Regions from separate parts of the Homo sapiens genome. Here region 2 is linked to region 1. The links come from fine-mapping of genetic effects on gene expression. A gene starts in region 1. The other region holds a variant in brackets. All regions are shown on one strand. Distances are from middle to middle.

Region 1 (10,029 bases):
GCAGAGTGAGAACCCAACTCAAAAAAACAAAAAAAGCATGTCCATATTTCTGTGTCCGTGCCATCCTCTTCCATCTGTGCCCTCCCTAACTCTCAGTTTCCTTATCTAAAAAATGGGGAGGACAACAGGATCGATGGCACGCCAGCTCCGACCGAGGCTGCAGGGGGATGAGTCACGCAGACATTATGTTGGGTAAAAGAATTCCACAGCAGGGAGAACACGCGCTGTGATTCATGGACGTGGAATTCCAGAAGAGACGAACCAGGCGGGGAGCTGGCCACAAAGGGGCAGGGGCAGCTGCGGGTGACGGGATGTTCCGTGTGATGGGTGACGGGATGTTCCGTGTGACGGGTGATGGGATGTTCCGTGTGATGGGTGACGGGATGTTCTGTGTGACTGGTGACAGGATGTTCCGTGTGACGGGTGATCGGATGTTCCGTGTGAGTGGGTGATGGGATGTTCCATGTGATGGGTGATCAGATATTCCGTGTCAGCGGGAGACGGAATGTTCCGTGTGACGGGTGACGGGATGTTCCATGTGATGGGTGAGATGTTCTGTGTGATTGGTGAGATGTTCCATGTGACGGGTGATGGGATGTTCCGTGTGACAGGTGACGGGATGTTCCATGTGATGGGTTACGGGATGTTCCGTGTGACGGGTGACGGGATGTTCCGTGTGACAGGTGATGGGATGTTCCGTGTGATGGGTGAGATGTTCCATGTCAGCGGGTGACGGGATGTTCCGTGTGATGGGTGAGATGTTCCATGTGACGGGTGATGGGATGTTCCGTGTGACGGGTGATGGCATGTTCCGTGTGACGGGTGATGGGATGTTCCGTGTGATGGGTGACGGGATGTTCCGTGTTACAGGTGACGGGATGTTCCGTGTGACGGGTGAGATGTTCTGTGTCAGCGGGTGATGGGATGTTCCGTGTGATGGGTGAGATGTTCTGTGTCAGCGGGTGACGGGATGTTCCGTGTGACAGGTGAGATGTTCCGTGTGATGGGTGATGGGATGTTCCATGTGACGGGTGATGGGATGTTCCGTGTGACAGGTGAGATGTTCCGTGTCAGCGGGTGACGGGATGTTCCGTGTGATGGGTGAGATGTTCCGTGTGATGGGTGATGGGATGTTCCATGTGACGGGTGATGGGATGTTCCGTGTGACGGGTGAGATGTTCTGTGTCAGCGGGTGACGGGATGTTCCGTGTGATGGGTGAGATGTTCCGTGTGATGGGTGAGATGTTCTGTGTGATGGGTGATGGGATGTTCCGTGTGACGGGTGATGGGATGTTCCATGTGACGGGTGATGGGATGTTCCGTGTGACGGGTGATGGGATGTTCCGTGTGACGGGTGAGATGTTCTGTGTCAGCGGGTGACGGGATGTTCCGTGTGATGGGTGAGATGTTCTGTGTCTGCAGGTGATGGGATGTTCCGTGTGATGGGGGAGATGTTCCGTGTCAGCGGGTGACGGGATGTTCCGTGTGACGGGTGAGATGTTCTGTGTCAGCGGGTGACGGGATGTTCCGTGTGACGGGTGAGATGTTCTGTGTCAGCGGGTGACGGGATGTTCTGTGTGATGGGTGAGATGTTCCGTGTCTGCAGGTGATGGGATGTTCCGTGTGACGGGTGAGATGTTCCGTGTCAGCGGGTGACAGGATGTTCCGTGTGATGGGTGAGATGTTCCGTGTGATGGGATGTTCCGTGTGACGGGTGACGGGATGTTCCATGTGACGGGTGAGATGTTCTGTGTCAGCGGGTGACGGGATGTTCCGTGTGATGGGTGAGATGTTCCGTGTCAGCAGGTGACGGGATGTTCCGTGTGATGGGTGAGATGTTCCGTGTGATGGGTGTGGGATGTTCCGTGTGACGGGTGAGATGTTCCGTGTCAGCGGGTGACGGGATGTTCCGTGTGATGGGTGAGATGTTCTGTGTGATGGGTGATGGGATGTTCCGTGTGATGGGTGATGGGATGTTCCATGTGAGCAGATGACGGGATGTTCCATGTGATGGGTGAAGGGATGTTCCATGTGACGGGTGAGATGTGATGGGTGATGGGATGTTCCGTGTGATGGGTGAAGGGATGTTCTGTGTGACGGGTGAGATGTGATGGCTGACGGGATGTTCCGTGTCATGGGTGAGATGTGACAAGTGATGGGATGTTCTGTGTGATGGGATGTTCCGTGTGACGGGTGATCGGATGTTCCGTGTCAGCAGGTGACAGGATGTTCCGTGTGAGGGGTGAAGGGATGTTCTGTGTGACAGGTGAGATGTTCCGTGTGACGGGATGTTCTGTGTGACGGGTGATGGTCAGCTGTGTACAGTCACCTAAACTTGTCATTCTCAACCCTTAAGATTGATGCATTTTATCGTAAAATTTTTTTTTTTTTTTGAGACAAAGACTCACTGTCACCTGGGCTGGTGTGCAGTGGCGCGATCTCGGCTCGCTGAAACCTCTGCCTCCCAGGTTCAAGTGATTCTCCTGCCTCAGCCTCCCCAGTAGCTGGGACTACAGGCACGCACCACCACGCCTGGCTAATTTCTTTTCTATTTTTAGTAGAGATGGGGTTTCATCATGTTGGCCAGGCTGGTCTCGAACTCCTGACCTCGTGATCCCCCCACCTCGGACTTCCAAAGTGCTGCGATTACAGGCGTGAGCCACCGTGCCCGGCCTGTAAATTTTACCTCAATAAAAAAGAAGGACCCGTCCTGGCAAGGTGTGAGGATTCCGTGCAGCACAGGAAGTGCTTAGCGCAGTGTCCAGCAGGGCCCAGCACATCAACAGACACTCTCATCACGACTTGCAGAAGCCACTTTTGGGCTGGCTGTGGAGGCCGTAACCCAGAGAGCATCACCAAGGAAGCAGTGGCCACCGTAGGACCTGCTGCTCACAAGGAGGCTTCTTTTTTTTTTTTTTTTTTTGAGACAGAGTCTCAATCTGTCACTCAGGCTGGAGTGCAGTGGTGAGATCTCCACTCACTGCAACCTCTGCCTCCCGGGTTCAACCGATTCTCCTGCCTCAGCCTCCAGAGTAGCTGGGATTACAGGCACATGCCACCATGCCCGGCTAATTATTGTACTTTTTGTAGAGATGAGGTTTCAGCATGTTGGCCAGGCTGGTCTCGAACTCCTGACCTCAAGTGATCTGCCCGCCTCGGCCTCCCACAGTGCTGGGATCACAGGTGTGAGCCACCACGGCCGGCCACCAGGAGACTTTTAGGTGCTGATATGGAGGGGCTGCTGCACGTCGTGGAAGTGAAAACGCAGGATGCAGAACAGGGAACGTAATTTGTGTATTTTTGAAAAAAGAGGAAAAGTGGGCTGGGCACCGTGGCTCACGCCTGTAATCCCAGCACTTTGGGAGGACAAGGCAGGCGGATCACGAGGTCAGGATTTCAAGAGCAGCCTGACCAACATGGTGAAACCCCGTCTCTACTGAAAATACAAAAATTAGCCGGGCGTGGTGGCGGGTGCCTGTAATCCCAGCTACTCAGGAGGCTGAGGCAGGAGAATCGCTTGAACCCAGGAGGTGGAGGTTGCAGTGAGCCGAGATCACGCCACTGCACTCCAGCCTGGGTGACAGAGCGAGACTACATCTCAAAAAAAAAAAAAAAGAAAAAGAAAAAAAAGAAAAAAGAGGAAAAGTGATAGGCTGGTTTGCTCCTGTGAAAATCTCTCTCTGGACAATGTCCAGGGACCTGGCAGCAGCTGGATGGGGCAGGATGGAGGCGCTCCACAGCCTTTTATACCTTCAGGCTTTAAAACATACGAATGTATTACCCAGTTCAAAATTACATGTATATTTTAATCTAATAATGACTGTTCAGGAGGAGCTGAGGAGGGGGCAGAGCCAGGTTGGCCACCCCAGCAGGGTCCCTGCGGTGCTGGTACATCAGCCTTGAATCGGCTGTGGCCCCCACGCCAACCGTCCTCCTCCCTCCGAGGGGACGGGGCACCCACCTGCCCCAGGGTGCACTCCATGCCCCCCAGGAAATCGTCCTCCTGACAGCTGAAGCCGCTGGGCCCATGCGTGTCGTACACCTCAAAGCGCAGCCTCTGCACCTCCTCGAAGTAGTAGTCCACCGTGAAGACCTTGGAGAACACGGGATGCAGGCTGCTCCGGACCACCTCGGTTCTGCCCACCTGCAAGTGCACCTGTGAGCCGACCCCACTCCAGAGGCTTCCACCCCGGGCTCCAGACCTCCATCTCCCCTCTGCCGCTCACCCACGCCCAGGTACCTCAGGAGGACTCATACCCTGGGAAGACCTCCTGCCTGCTCTCTGTCCATGGGACCACAATCCCGAGGGCCACCCTGGGGGTCACCCCTGGCCACCACTGTCTGCTCCACCCTCAGATCACAGATGGGGAAAGTGAGGCTCACAGAGGACGAGAATGACACGCTGAGTCGGGGGCGAGATCAGATTCACACCCTGGGCTGGGCAGCCCTAAAGTGCAGGCCGCTCCCCAGCACCAGCTGAGTGGGGAGGGGGCGTAGGGTACAGGGGGGCCCTCCCTCCTGGCTGGGGTACCATGGGCTCACCAGCCTCTCCCATCCCATGCAGTTCCCTGGTCCAACTGCCCCGTAAGGACAAGACCCAGCTGGGCCAGTAGGCTACTCATTTCAGAATCCTGAAAAATCCTGCACCTCAAACCAAGGGCAAACATGGGCCACCCGTACAGCTCACGCTCTGAGGGTGCGGGCACGAGGCCTCCGTGGGGATGGTGGGCTCGGGATGTGAAGGGTGGGCTCAGGCTGTGAGGGGCGGGCACGGGGCCTCCGGGGGCAGCCGGAACCCTGGGGACAGGCGGTGAGGGCGGGGCAGGCCCTTCACCCTCAAGGTGGATGACCGGAGACGCCACCGGGTGACCGCGTCCCTTCCACCGCCCGAGCAGCCGCCCGGGCCCGCGCTGGAGCCTGGAGAGACCCCTGCGCCGGGGAAAAGCGCTGGCGCCCCGCGCGGACTGGGGTTCGAGTTCCGGCTCCTCCGCCCGCTGCGGCTTCGCGCCATGCGTTTCTCGCCCTTTCGAGGTGAAGCCACGCGTTTCACGCGAGATGGTGACCGAGGAAGCGCCCGTCTGGCGCCGGCCCCGTGCCCCTTCGGACCCCAACCGCGATCACAGCGGGTTCGCTTGAGACCCACGTTGGAGCGGGAGCCCCGGACGCCTGGAGGTCCGCACCCCAGCGCGCGCTCCCTCGCCGGCCTGCTCCCGCCCAGCCTCCCGCCCCCCGTCGGCCGGCGCCCCTCACCCCTCAATCTCCTTGCGCCTCTTGGTCGAGCCCCCTGCCCGCGCCTCATGCCTGGGCGCTTCACTCTGGCCCGGGGCCCCCTCCCCGAACCCTGGGCCGCACCCCTCACTGCGGGGCACCCCCCTCTCTCCTCCGAACCCCGCTCGCCGCCACCTCCTCCAGCCCAGCCTCTCCCCACAGCTCTGGACACCCCACCCCCAGACCTGGTAACCCCCAACCCTGACCCCGAGCTGAGCCCCAGCTCCGGGGGGCCCCGCCTTGCGCCCCACTGGCCTCAGCGCGCCCGCTCTGGTCTCCGCATCCCCAGCTCGGCGCCAGCCCCGGCCCGGTGGCCTCTCGGCCTCCCACGCCCCGGCCCTACCTGCACCCACTGGCCCTGCGCCTGCTGCAGCAACGCCACGCTGGGGTCGGACTTGGTGAGCGGGTCGCGGTCCAGCAGGTGCCGGCAGCTGAGCCGCAGCTCCACCTTCGAGGCGCAGGGCGCGGGCAAACCCCCGGGGGTTGCCGCCGCCCCGCGCTCCGAGCCCGCGCTCATGCTCCCGGCGTTCGGGGGCCCGGCTGGGCGCACTGAGGGGCCGCTGCCCGCGAGTCGGCGCCGCCGCGGCGCCCGGGAAATGGTGGCCGGCCCAGGCGTGGCCGCGCTTCCCTGAACGCCTGCCGGGCGCGGGCGCACGTGGCTCGGGCGGCCGCCGCGCGGGGACTGCAGGGGGTGGGGCGCGGCCGGGGGGCGGGGCCGGGGAGGGGCGCGGCGGGAAATGAGGGCAGGGGGCAGAGGCAGGGGTGCCCCTCGGAGATGCCCGGGAGGAGACAGCTTCTAATTCCCCGGGGACCCCCCCCCCAACTGATAGCTTTGGGGTCAGGTCGGGCGCGCCCTCCCCGGCTGTGCGCATCCCCGGCCCAGGGACCGGCTCCGGGCTGGAGGCTCCGAGCTGCGCGGGGCCTGAGCCCGGGTTCGGACCCAGGCAGACACTAGGGGAGGCAAAAGGGGGACCCCAGCTTGGCACCAGATCCCCGCGCCCTTCCCGGATCTCTAGGATCCCATTTCCAGGCTCCGCTGGTTTCGGGTACTCGCCACCTCCATCAACAAGCATTTAGTGGGCGCCTGTTGTGTGCAGGCGCCGCGCTCGTCTGGGGCTGGAAGGACCGTCCCGGGGGGCCGAGGGCTGAATCGCGGTCTGATTCCGAGGGGTCCGCGGGGCACGGTCCACACCAGTCCCCCGAGGCCGGGGCGGGGCGGGGCAGGCCTGGGTTCCGTGGGGGGTGGGCCCGCTCCGCCCTGAACTCACTCCCCCACCTTCCCCATCACCGGTCCCGGGGGAGGGAGCAGCGGAAGAGGAGGCGTCGGCGGGGACAGAAACCACCTCGCAGTCCACTCTTTTTGCCGATTTCTGCCTAAAAATAGGGCACGGACCTCGCCAAAAGCCACGGGGGTGGGGGGCGAGGGTGAGGGAGACATTAAGACTGAAGAGGCGGGAAGACCGGGCGCCTCCGCTCAGCCTCGGCGATCAGGACTCTAGAAGAAGACCCTGCGGTCAGAGGGGACCGCCGCCGACAGGGCGAGGAGGCTCAGGGCCCCGCCGGCGGGAGGCAGCACAGGCAGCCTCGGCCTGGGAGGAGGAACGCGGCCAGCGGCGTCCCCTCGCGGTCGGACGGCGGGATGGCGCCGGGCGCGGCTGCAGGGCGGGGAGGCCCCACGGGGCTGGCAGGGCCGGGAGAGGCCATGGAGACCGGCTCCTGCCTTCCCGGGAGGTTGGCTAAAGAGGCGAGGAACAGGTCAGGGCGCAGCGAGGCCTGCAGGGCCCCATCTGCTGTCTCCCCGGCCTCTGCGCCTCCTCCCTGAAGCCCGCAGTGGGCAGAGGCCAGTCCCGCTCTCTAGGGACCAGTCTGGGCCTTCCCGGCCCTGTGTCCTCCTCAGCCCAGCCTTCCAGGCTGCCGGGAGGCCACATCCTCGGTCCCCAACCACTTCCATGGGAAAAGGATGCGAAATTCAGGCAAAGGGTGCGGGCGCCCAGGCAGCTCCTGCAGGCCGTGCCTCCCGCTCGGTTCCAGCAGCCCTGGGACAGTTTTCCCCAGACCAAGCTCCGCTTCCTGCCTTGACCTCACCCGAAAGCTCCTCACCACCGCCCTGAGGTTTGCTCGTCTGCAGTGTGGCGTGAGGCCTGAGGTCCACCAGGCTGTCTGAGGGGTACCCGGCTTAAACCTGGAACACCCCAGTTCAGCCCTTGGCTGTCACATAGCGGCACCCTGGCAAAATAACAGATGGCTTCCAAGCAAAGGACGCAGGGAGCCAAGAAAGATCACAGAGTTTGGGAATTTGAGTCTCTGAAGCCCAGGGCGATTTGGGATCTCCAGCCACAGCCCTCGGCCGGCTTGCTGTCTCCTGACTGACAGCCCTGACTGCAGCCTGCTCTAATGGAGAGAAACCACAGAAGGAAAAGCCGATTCCCCTGTGGCACTGGTGTCTGGACGCTGCCTGCCCCTGCTCAGGGATCAGCCCGCAGTAGGCCCAGGTACAATGGAAGGACCCCGCAGGCCATGTGGAGCCATCTTTCCAAGGCTCCCCCTCCCAGCTTTCCCTGCAGGGCCAGACACAGGAAATGAGATCCACACACATACACGCAGGAATAATAACCGTGTTCCTTGTTGAAATATTAGACAATGCAGATAGGGAGTAAAAACAAATTTCCAGACCCCAAAGCAGCCCATCACCTCCCCACATCTAACCCTCCAGGTTTTTTTTTTTATGTGCAAATTTCTTTTAATTGTCAAAAAAAAAAAAAAGGTGCCTAACTCTCAGAGCCCTTCCCACACTTGAGAGGACTCTTCAGTATCTGCACGCCAGGCTCATCACGCGGGCCAGGCCCGGGACCCCACGCCAGGCTCATCACGCGGCCCAGGCCCGGGACCCTGCCTGGCACGGTTGGAGCACCATAGGTGTTGGTGCAGATGGTTTCTGTTCTGTAACCTGCTTTTTTCTTTCTTATTGACAATATTGCATTCAATGGTTAGCCTGGATCCCCTCATCACTGGGTTACCTATGAGACCCTCTGATTAGTGCCGACCCCCACGGCTATCCAGAGGCTTACACATGATCAATTTTAGGAGCAGCAATGACATATCTGTGCCCAAGTGCCCTGTGTGGCTTCCTGGCATCCAGGACTCAGATACTTTTCAGGCCCAAGTGCCTCTGCCTCAGCCTCTCCCACCACCCGACCCCTACCTACCCTGCAAAGCCCAGCCCAGTCTGAACCGCCACCCAACATCCCTCCCTGGGCTCCCGGCCCACACGTCCACAACATCAGTTCCACTGTCCAGGGCTGTGCTGCCCATGACCTCATCCACCCTGGACCAGGAGTCCACCGAGGCCTGAGTTAACACCAGTACAGGTCCCAACACAGAGTCTAAGACAACAAACTCCAGGCGGATGAATGAAGTGCGGATCAGCGAATGAAACGCAGCTCTGGTGGCTGCTCTCTGGTCCTGGATCTGCCTCGAGGGTGTCATCTCCATCAGTCACAGAGTCCCCATCTCCCATTTCAGTAACACTGGCCACGAGGCCAACCGGGAGCAGGGAAACCTGTCCAGGGCCTCCAGAGGTTCCCGGCAGACCCCAGGCCCACTGCTACTGCCTTGAGGCACATCCCCTGGAGCCAGTGCTCTCCCCCACACTCTGACAGCCCTTTGTCCCTGAGCCAGGTCCAGAGTCCATGGCCTCCTCCCTGGCCGTCCTGAGCACACAGCTGGTGTGCTCCAGTGGACCGGTCCGGGGCTCGGTCCCCACCCCTGAATGCAGGGTCCTCGAACCTGCCCTTCATGTGGAGAGATTGTCCCAGAAGTTGCCTCAAAACAAGAAATTGCAGAGGGTGGGGGTTACTAACAGGATTGTTTAACAGGAAACAGCTCTCCACGTGTCCGGATGGGTGCTGCTTTTTTTAATCTGGTTGCAAACCTACCCTCTTCTTTTCTTTCCTCCTAAAGAAAGGTTATTTTATCTTAGAACATCTGCAACCTGTCTGGATCAGATTGTCTTCCTGCAGGATCTGATGCTGATCTTATTTGAGAAATCAACCATGCCCAGAGGCGGCCACGCCGGCTGTTGGCTGAGACAACACACCTGGCCAGTCTCAGTTCCTCGCTGACCTTGTTACAGCCTCAGAGACCTGGGGACTGATTAGGGGGACTTTCTCCTCCACCACACTCAGCACATGCAGGCACGCACGAGCACACGCCACACACGTGTGCCAAATACCGCAGACACGTGCACGTACTCATGGAGAGACAGCCCACACGCAGACACGCCAGGCACCCAAGACACACAAGCGCAGACACAGGCCACCCCAGGGCAACATATGTTCCAACCAGGGGGTCCCCTTCCTCCACTTCCTTCCCCCAACACCGTCTTCTGGGTGTGGATGAGACCCCCTTCTTCGAGACTCCCTTCTCCTCCAGGCGCGTTCTCGCGTGCAGCCCCGGGCCGCCATCCCTCCTGCCCCTTGTCTGCATGCAGCCAGGAGCAGACCATCCCAGCCCCCAGCATCTCTGCCCAGCAGGAGACACCACTGCTGGCGGGAGACATGGCTCAGAGAGGGCGTTGTGGTGGCTGAGACCACACAGCAGGGGTGGAGCTGGAACCCAGAACCCAGCTCAGAAGCCAGCGCTCACACCTTCCTCGGCCCGTCCAGGCCCTGGGGTGGAACTGGAACCCCGCTCAGAACCCAGCCCTCACGCCTTCCTTCGCCCGTCCAGCCCCCGGCGTGGCTTGATGGCTTTGCTGCCCTT
Region 2 (10,029 bases), 22 kb before region 1:
AGTGCTCCCCTCCAACCCCCAGTGCTCCCCTCCAGCCCCCAATGCTCCCCTCCAACCCCCAGTGCTCCCCTCCAGCCCCCAGTGCTCCCCTCCAGCCCCCAGTGCTTCCTGCCAGCCCCCAGTGCTCCCCTCCAACCCTCAGTGCTCCCCTCCAACCCCCACTGCTTCCCTCCAGCCCCCAATGCTCCTCTGCAGCCCAGGGCTTCCCCTCCAGCCTCCAGTGCTCCCCTCCAGCCCCCAGTGCTTCCTCCAGCCCCCAGTGCTCCCCTCCAGCCTCCAGGGCTCCCCTCCAGCCCCCAGGGCTTCCCCTCCAGCCCCAGGGTCCCCTCCAGCCCCCAGGGCTTCCCCTCCAGCCCCCAGTGCTCCCCTCCAGCCCCCAGGGCTTTCCCTCCAGCCCCCAGGGCTCCCCTCCAGCCCCCAGGGCTTCCTCTCCAGCCTCCAGGGCTCCCCTCCAGCCCCCAGGGCTTCCCCTCCAGCCCCCAGTGCTCCCCTCCAGCCCCCAGGGCTTTCCCTCCAGCCCCCAGGGCTCCCCTCCAGCCCCCAGTGCCCCCCTCCAGCCCCCAGTGCCTCCCTCCAGCCCCCAGTGCTTCTCTGCACAGTGGGATGATAATGTACTGTCCTGGTGGAGTAATGGGGCACCAAGACCTTGCACGTCACTTGCTCCACCTGGGGTCTGGATGCTGACTGCCTGGGATGGGGAGGGCTGGCAGTGTGGCCAAGTCCCAGTGCAACTGGGGCTCCTAAAGATGTTTCAGTAAAGCAGTGAGGACCAACACCCCCACTCCAGCCTCTTCCACATGCACAGGGCAACACATCTACACCTGTGCACACGTATGCACCCATACATCCATGCACACACATGCATGCACACACATGCACACATGCATACATGCCTATGCACACACAGAGCAACACAGATACACCCATGCACACATATGCACCCGTGCATCCATGCACCCACACATGCCTATGCACACATGCACGCACACATGCCTAACAGACACACATGTGCTCAGCCAGGACCTAGGGGCTCCAGGCTGAGTGCTGGGAACCCAGGGGCCAGACCCAGCTCGCCACCCTGCCCTGCCTCCCCAGCAGTGCACCTAGGGTTTTTCTGAGGTCGGCCGTCCCGTCAGTGAGATGCACTCACAACAGTCAGCCAGGCGGGGTTGTTGTGGGAACTTAGCTCAGTGAGTACTGGAATACTCAGTACTCCTGGGCTGTGGTGGGTCTTGATGGGGTGAGGGGAGGGAGGCACCAGCTGGACAGGGGTCCTGGGTGGGCTCTGATGGGGGTGGGGCCCCAGTGCAGGGACAGGTGAGGCGTGAGGTGGCAAGGAAGACAGCTTTCGCCCACGGCCCTGCTGTGCCAGGGGCCGGCGGTACTCCTGTCTGACAGCCCTGCCACAGCCCCCGCACCAATTACAAGCACTTAGTCACAACTTCCTGCCTGTACTCGCCTCGGCAGCAGGAGAAAGAACAGCCTGGACGCTGAGCTGCTGCTCTTCCCACTCCCTCCAGCTGCCCCCCCCACCCACCGAGTCAGAGCCCTCATCCGACTCCGCGCATGGGTGGGCAGGGGTTGACCCCGCGTCCTCAGCCTGTGAGGCCCAGGCAGCCGGTGGCCAGCAAGACAGGGTGGGGGATGCTCAGCAGCTGTGATTGGTGGTTCCTGAGAATAAGGAGAAGCCGGCTCCCCTTGTGAAACTGACACCTATTTATCCAGCAGGGGCTCCTGCATCCCTCGTTCATTCCTCACAAGATCCCTGGGAAAGAGGATGTGTCTGTTACCTCCTGCCCTACGACTCATCACGCCCAAACCGAGTGGCTTCGAACAGCAACCGTGGATTAACCCGGGCCACGACCTGGGTCAGGAATCCACACGAGGATTTGCCGTGTGGCTTTGGCTCAGGCCTCTCGTGAGGATGCAGGCAGGGCATCCTGCCCGGGGCTACAGGAGCTGCTGGAGGTGGTGCACTCGCATGGTGGCCCCTGGCACTGGCTGCCAGCCGGGAGCTCAGCTGGGGTGCGGGCGCTTGAGCTTCCTCGCAGCATCGTCAGTTTCCCGGGAGCCACATCTCCTGAGCACGGGAGCAGCGCCCAGCATTCTTACCGTGGGGTGTCAGAATCCACGTGGGGGCCAGGCACAGTGGCTCACGCCTGTAATCCCAGCACTTTGGGAGGCCGAGGTGGGTGGATCACTTGAGGTCAGGACCAGCCTGGCCAACATGGTGAAACCCTGTCTCTACTAAAAATACAAATAAAAATACAAAAATTGGCCGGGTGCGGTGGCTCACGCCTGTAATCCCAGCATTTTGGGAGGCTGAGGCGGGTGGATCACGAGGTCAGGAGATCGAGACCATCCTGGCTAACACGGTGAAACCCTGTTTCTACTAAAAATACAAAAAATTAGCCGGGCATAGTGGCGGGCGCCTGTAGTCCCAGCTACTCGGGAGGCTGAGGCAGGAGAATGGCATGAACCTGGGAGGCGGAGCTTGCAGTGAGCCAAGATCGCACCACTGCACTCCAGCCTGGTCGACAGAGCCAGACTCCGTCTCAAAAAAAAAAAAAAAAATACAAAAATTAGCCAGGTGTGGTGGCACGCGCCTGTAATCCCAGCTACTTGGGAGGCTGAGGCAGGAGAATCACTTGAACCCGGGAGGCGGAGGTTGCAGTGAGCTGAGATCCCACCGCTGCACTCCAGCCCGGGTGACAGAGCGAGACTCCATCTCAAAAACAAACAAAAATAAGCCACATTGGACCGAAGTCTTCCTAGGTTCAAGAAGAAGGAACATAAACCAACTTCCAATGGAAGGGGCTGAGGAGTCTAGAGCCATGTTTCAAAGCTGCTATATCCGCGTGACAGGCAAGGAACAAGGCTCTGACTCACTGAGACTGTGATGGCTTGTCCAGGGTCACACAGCGGGAGCTGGTGTCCAGCTTGACTGAGGCTGTTTCCAAATCTCAAATCCACCCCCGAGGAGGAGCTCCTCCGCCTGCTGCAGGCAGTCCCTGGACTGGGTCCCATGGTGGCCCTTGCTGTGGGGTCCTGGCAGCTACACACTTTCTGCTTCTTATTTGGGAAATAAGTCCACATCCAGGCAGGTCATACCCAGGCTATTCTCAGCAAGGGTCAGGCTCTAATTCGAGGTCAGGAGGGGCTGAAGACTCAGGGAACCCATTGGTCTCACCTGGGGGTCTCCACACCGGCCGGCAGGACCCCTGACTGCCCTGCCCTAGGGGCCCCTCTGGGTTTCAGAGCCGGATGTCACACCCCGGGGAGGAAGATGCCTGACAGGTGGACCTACAGGAACTGCAGAACTAGCATCTCAATTCCTAGGACTCAGCCTGGAGCCTGCAGGTCCCGGCTAAGCACGTGTCCGTGTGGATGTGTTAGGCATGTATGCACATGTCTGTGCATGGATGCGTGGGTGCACGTGTGCGTGCGTGGATGTGTGGGTGCGTGTGGGTGCATGTGTGTGCATGGATGTGTGGGTGCGCGTGTGTGTGCACAGGTGTATACATGTTGCTCTGTGTGTGTGTGCACACCAGCTACACAAAGCTAGCACCTCTGCTTCTGACTGGCTGTGTGACCTTGGGCAGGGCACCTCACTGTGCTGAACCCTGATTTTCTTGTCTGTGAAAAAGGAGCATCTGTCATCCTTTTGGGGCAGGATCCTTGGGTGGCAAATGACAGAAACCCAGTCCCACCTGAGCTAATCAGAAAGGGAGCTCATGGCTCCTCAATGGGAAGTATCGGCTCAGGAGCAGGCCTGACAGGAGCAGGCCTGAGCATGCACCTGCCACCAGCTCTCTGGGTAGTGTCCTTCCCAGGCAGGCCCTGCCCATGTGACCCCGCTAAGTGGTCACTGTCCACAGCTCCTCAAGCCAGGAAGAAACAAGGGGTCCCAGAACTGAGTCTCACGGGCCAGCTTGGGGCACGTCCATCCCTGGAGCAAGCACTGTGGCCAGGAGGCAGCAGCCCCTGCCTGGCCAGGCCTGGATCCTGTGTTCATCCCAGTGACCCACGGGGTTAGGGGGAGAAGTCAAATTATTATTGCGTGCGTCTCTGAGCAACGTTGGGCTGCTTTCTCAGGCTGGGAATTGCTGGCGAAAGTCACATTCTCAGAGCTGAGCTGGCAGACGCCATCCTGTCCCTGCTGTCCCTCGATGGTCTCAAACACACCCCAGACACCCAGCAGCACAGAGACCAGGGTGGCCCAGCCTGCCCACTGGCCTGACCCCAGGGCTGCTGCCTTCTGCCATGGGAGGACGGCAGGAGAAGAGAGGGTGGGAGGAGGGGGCTGGGGTGCTCACAGCCACTCCCTGCTTGCTCCATAGGGGTCTGGGAGTGGCCACATCCCTGTAAGGCAGCAGTTCTGGGAAGGGACACACTCCCTCCAGGGCGCCAGCTCACCGAGTGACCTGCCCATCCCTGTCTGTCTGAGGTCAGCTCCCTGGCGCCCCACTGTGGCCGCCCCAACCCTGTTCTGAGGTAGACTCCTCGGCACACCTGCTTCCTGCTAAGATCTCAATGGACCAACACCTCTCGACTTT[G/C]AGTCAGCCCAGAAACCGTCTGACACTTTCTGGCCCAAAAACCACAGGCAGGTGGCACAGGGCACCAACACTCACCCTCTGTCCCAGCCCCTGAGACCCCCGACCCGCTCAGGGCCCCAGCCCCGATACTCACCCTCTGCCCAGCCCCTGAGACCCCCAATCAGCACAGGGCCCGGATACTCACTCTCTGTCCAGCCCGAGACCCCCTGACCTGCACAGGGCCCTGACACGCAACCTCTGCCCAGCCCCCGAGACCCCCGATCAGCACAGGGCCCTGATACTCACCCTCTGTCCAGCCTGAGACCCCCCCACACCTGCACAGGGCCCTGACACCCTCTGTCCAGCCCGAGACCCCCGATCAGCACAGGGCCCTGACACGCACCCTCTGCCCAGCCCCTGAGACCCCCGATCAGCACAGGGCCCTGATACTCACCCTCTGTCCAGCCTGAGACCCCCCCACACCTGCACAGGGCCCTGACACCCTCTGTCCAGCCCGAGACCCCCGATCAGCACAGGGCCCTGACACGCACCCTCTGCCCAGCCCCTGAGACCTCCGATCTGCACAAGGCCCGGATACTCACCCTCTGTCCAGCCTGAGACCCCCCCACACCTGCACAGGGCCCTGACACGCACCCTCTGCCCAGCCCCTGAGACCTCCGATCTGCACAAGGCCCGGATACTCACCCTCTGTCCAGCCTGAGACCCCCCCACACCTGCACAGGGCCCTGACACGCACCCTCTGCCCAGCCCCTGAGACCTCCGATCTGCACAAGGCCCGGATACTCACCCTCTGTCCAGCCTGAGACCCCCCCACACCTGCACAGGGCCCTGACACGCACCCTCTGCCCAGCCCCTGAGACCTCCGATCTGCACAAGGCCCGGATACTCACCCTCTGTCCAGCCTGAGACCCCCCCACACCTGCACAGGGCCCTGACACGCACCCTCTGCCTGGCCAGCCCCTGAGGCCCCCCGACCGGCTCAGGGCCTGAAGCCTCAGATGTGGATGGAGGGGTGATCTCTGGGCCTGTCCATCCCCAAAGAGACCAACATTGATCCTTCTGAAATTCACAGACTGGCCAGGTTACCATGGCGATACCCATGATCCCTGCTTAACAGAGGACGAAGCAAGAGCTAAAAATAGGCCCCAGAGTGGATGGATGGACAGATGGGTGGGTGGGGGGATGGGTGGACGGATGGGTGGACGGACGGGTGGGCGGATGGGTGGACGGATGGGTGGGCGGGGGGATGGGCGGGGGGATGGGTGGGCGGATGGGTGGATGGATGGACGGGTGGACAGATGGGTGGATGGATGGGTGGGCGGGGGAATGGGTGGACGGATGGGTGAGTGGACGGATGGGTGAGTGGATGGATGGGTGGACGGATGGGTGGGGGGATGGGTGGACGGATGGGTGGACGGATGGGTGGGTGGGGGGATGGGTGGATGGATGGGTGGGTGGGGGGATGGATGGACGGACGGGTGGGTGGGGGGATGGGTGGACGGATGGGTGGACGGATGGGTGGACAGATAGGTGGACAGATGGGTGGACGGATGGGTGGGGGATGGATGGACGGATGGGTGGGTGGACGGATGGGTGGATGGATGGGTGGACAGATGGGTGGGTGGGGGGATGGATGGACGGATGGGTGGACAGATGGGTGGGCGGGGGGATGGGTGGACAGATGGGTGGGCGGGGGGATGGGTGGACGGATGGGTGGGCGGGGGGATGGGTGGACGGATGGGTGGGCAGGGCGATGGGTGGACGGATGGGTGGGTGGATGGACCGATGTGGGGATGGGTGGGCCTGGATTCAGGGTTAGGACAATTTGTTTTTCTCAGGCAAGATCATTCAGGGGAAATCTCAAACTCAGGGCGAGGAGGTCCCAGCAGGTGGGAGATGCCCCGGCTCCACGAACATCACATGGAGGCTTCACCCTCCAGCCCAGCTCCCTGCGGTGCAGGCCATGTGGGAGGCTCCTGGCACCCCTGCATCACGTCCACAGTCCTCACTCACTGGGTTTCAGGCCTGGGAGTCCCAGGAAGCCGAGTGGAGCTCCTTCGCGGGTGGAGGCAGCCATGGTGCGGATCCCCGCTCTCTGCCCCTGGCAGCCTGTGCATCCCGCATCCCATTCAGTCCAGGGAGGATCCTGGTGTGCTGGGCCTGGGAGAGCCCCTGCCTCAGATGTGGGCACTTTGGAAGCCAGGCCCAGCCCTCTGGGGGGTTGGGGAAGGGACTGAAGGCACAAGAGAACTACAAGGATAGGGTGACACTTTATTACTCCTGAAGCCCCACCGGCAGAACCCACAGGCCAGGCAGACCCCGCAGACCCCGCAGACCCCATGGACCCAGGTGCAGAGGCCCGACGGCAAAAAGCACAGGGTAGGTGGGTGTGGGGGCACCAGCAGGGACAGGAGGCTGACTGTGGGGACAGGATGTCTGGGTCCCCAGGCTTTGACTGTGGGGACAGGTGTCTGGGTCCCCCAGGCTTTCTCGGGCGTGGGGGGACTGCCTTGCTGGCCCTCCCCCACAAAGGTTAGACGCAAAGCAGAGCCCCCAGTCCCTGCCCCTTCTCATCGGGGCAGGGTCTCCCGTGGATGAACTCCCAGCTCCCTCCAAGTCCCTCATGATCTCCCTCCCTCCACCCACCTGGCTCAGGCAGGGCCAGGCATGGGGGCCTGTATTTTGTCACCCTTCGGCCTTGGGGGCCCCAGAGCCGGGCCCAAGCCAGCAGGATCCCAGGAGGACTGGGAGTGGGGCCTGGTGGGGACTGGAGGCTTCTGGGAGGTCGGAGGGAGCTTAAGGGACCCCAAGCATGTTGCAGACAGAGGCTGTACGGACCCATTCCTCACTGCCCCCACCCTACGCCCTCCACATCTTCACGGTGTGCAGCCTGGGCTGGCCTCTCCGGCAGGGACACCCAGGCTTCTCGGGGGCAGGCCTCTGTGGCTGTAGTACTCCACCACCTGCTTCGGGACCTCGGCCAGCACGCACTTGGCCAGCGCCGCAGGGGATGCCTGGAGGATGGGACAACGCAGTTACCTCTGGGACCTTCGAGATGGAGATCATCCGTCCCTGCAACTGGATTATGGCCCAGGCCTCATCCTCCAGAGCCGAGTGGTGACTACCCACCCCCACCAGAGGCTCACCTGGGTGCCGGGCAAGACTTGCTGAGGATGTCGGCCACATGAGGCTGCACGTGGGTCTTTCCAGCCCCCCAAGCACGGAGATGAAAAGTGCTGACACGGGAGGCGAGGCCACCTCCATGGTCCAGGCCCCACCCACACTTCCCCGGCAAAGCCTGAGCGTGTCTGTGTGATGTGACTCACTGCAGAGCTTCATGTGTCTGTAATATGCATGTTTCACTGCGTAGAATGTCACGTGTCCGTGTCTTCATGCATGTCTGTGGTGTCTTGCTGTGTAGAACTTCACATCTATGTGGCATGCACGTCTTGCTGTAGGGCCTCATGTGTGACATGTGTGTCTTGCCTGGTAGAACCTCACGTGTGTGCTGTGCGTCTCACCGGGTAGAACCTCACGTGTGTGCTGTGTGTGTCTCGGCGGGTAGAACCTCACGTGTGTGCTGTGCGTGTCTCGCCGGGTCGCAGAGGTTGGCAGCAACGGGGGAAGCCGCGTGGTGGATCCCAGGAGCCCCTTGTGCTGTTCTCTGCTTTTGTGTAGATTCGACAAGTTTCAAAACGGTGGAGGGTGTTTCAGGTGCTCAAAGTCCTGGCTTCAGATACTGCTCTTGACTGGGGGGAACAGCCCAGGATCCCCCAGACACAAGAAGGGACCTGCCACATCCACTGGCGTGAGCCTGGCCTGGGAAGGTCTTGGGCAGTGACATGAACAGGGACCCCCAAGCCGGCCTTGACGGAGCCCCTCCAGGACACTCACGTTCTTGAGCTCCCGGAAGGGCACGAACTGTACGATGTCCCGGAGCGCGGGCTCACCCCGTGGGGAGCGCAGGACGCCGTCGTCGCCGTCCAGGACCTGCATGTCGGTGAAGTCGGCGTTGCCCACGCCCACGATGATGATGGACATGGGCAGGCGTGAGGCACGCACAATGGCCTCCCGTGTGTCGGCCATGTCGGTCACCACGCCGTCCGTCAGGATCAGCAGGATGTAGTATTGCTGGGGGCACAGGAAAGGCATCAGCAACACCACACCTGCCATGGCCCACATGCGCCCTGCAACCCACGGGCCCCCAGACAGCCCAGAGTGCCTCCGTGCGTCAGAGCTTCCTAGAACCGCCTTCAGAGTGTGATGCCTACATCACAAACATCACGAACAACAGTGGGTCAGGAGCCCCCTCCGTGGCGGGCACTCTGGGCCTCCTGTGCCCAGCTCAGGAAATCTCCACGAGTCTCACGGAGGGCTGTGGAGGGGGTGCTACGAAGTCTACATTTTACTGATGAGCTCACAGTGCCTGGATGGGAGGTCTGAGGCCAGAGGAGAAATCTGCGATCCCAGGAGCCAGACCTGCAGCCCACACACCCTGCTCCAGTCTCTCCAGGGTGCCCGCTGTGCTGCCACAAGACTGAGTGTTGGCCGGACGCGGTGGTTCACGCCTGTAATCTCAGCACTTTGGGAGGCCGAGGCGGGCGGATCACCTGAGGTCAGGAGTTCGAGACCAGCCTGGCCAAAATGGTGAAACCCCATCTCTACTAAAAATACAAAAACTAGCTGGGCGTGGTGGTGGGCGCCTGTAATCCCAGCTATTCGGGAGGCTGAGGCATGAGAATCGCTTGAACTTGGGAGGCAGAGGGTGCAGTGAGCTGAGATCGCGCCATTGCACTTCAGCCTGGCGATAGAGTGAGACTGTCTCCAAAAAAAAAAAAAAAAAAAAAAAAAAAAAGGCAGAATGGAACTTCAAATAAAATCAACTTCCATTGTTTAAAAAAAACCCCACTCAATAATCTTGCCCAAACTGTGGACAACGGGAAACATAAAGAGAAGCAGGGCTCGCCTGAGCAGCAGAGCGGGAGCCCACAGCAGCCTCCCCTGGGCTGGCCTTGACTGAGCCCGTCCCACTGAGGGCAGATGTGTCCTGGAAACGAACAGGGGCCCCAGGACCCCACTCAGAGTCGCCTTCTCCAAGAGGCTCTCTTTTTGTGCCCTCCCCATCTCCCCCTCTCTGAGCCCCACACCTGTGGGAAGAATTACCTGTTTGCAAGGCAGTCTCTGGTCCAGGCCTACAAGCACCCACGGCTGTGCCCAGCCTGGCTCTCGGCCTCCAGATAAACAGCCCAGCCTCAGAAAGCCCCCCACCCCCTCCCAACCCCAGATGAGGCCCCCACCCCCCTCTGCCAACTGTGCGAGCACCAGGCACCAAAACCCACCGTGGGGCCCCACTAGGGCGGGAGCTTCGTGTCCAGGAGAGGGACCGAGGGCTCAGCTGATCATGTCTGAGTCCTCGTTTCAACCCAATTCTAACCACAGAAAACCATGTCACGGGTAAGACAACAGGAAACAC

The links. PIP is the estimated chance that this variant, and not a neighbour inherited with it, causes the effect.
Region 2: its variant is fine-mapped to the expression of CPNE7 in whole blood (Lepik 2017, PIP 0.95).

The regions. Positions count from the first base shown.
Region 1 is chr16:89,571,654-89,581,682 of GRCh38, reverse strand. It overlaps CPNE7 (copine 7), which reads right to left and starts at 5,925. Exons shown (of 15, transcript NM_153636.3): 1 at 5,612-5,925; 2 at 3,962-4,144. The coding sequence starts at 5,785. RefSeq lists silencers at 6,462-6,531, 6,772-7,001, 7,462-7,719.
Region 2 is chr16:89,594,025-89,604,053 of GRCh38, reverse strand. CPNE7 (copine 7) reads right to left here. Exons shown (of 15, transcript NM_153636.3): 14 at 8,451-8,687; 15 at 6,808-7,570. The coding sequence ends at 7,433. Among named protein-coding and RNA genes, the nearest start is that of DPEP1, 15 kb to the left of the region's middle. RefSeq lists an enhancer at 3,607-4,520. The variant G/C (reference allele first, on the strand shown) is at 4,557.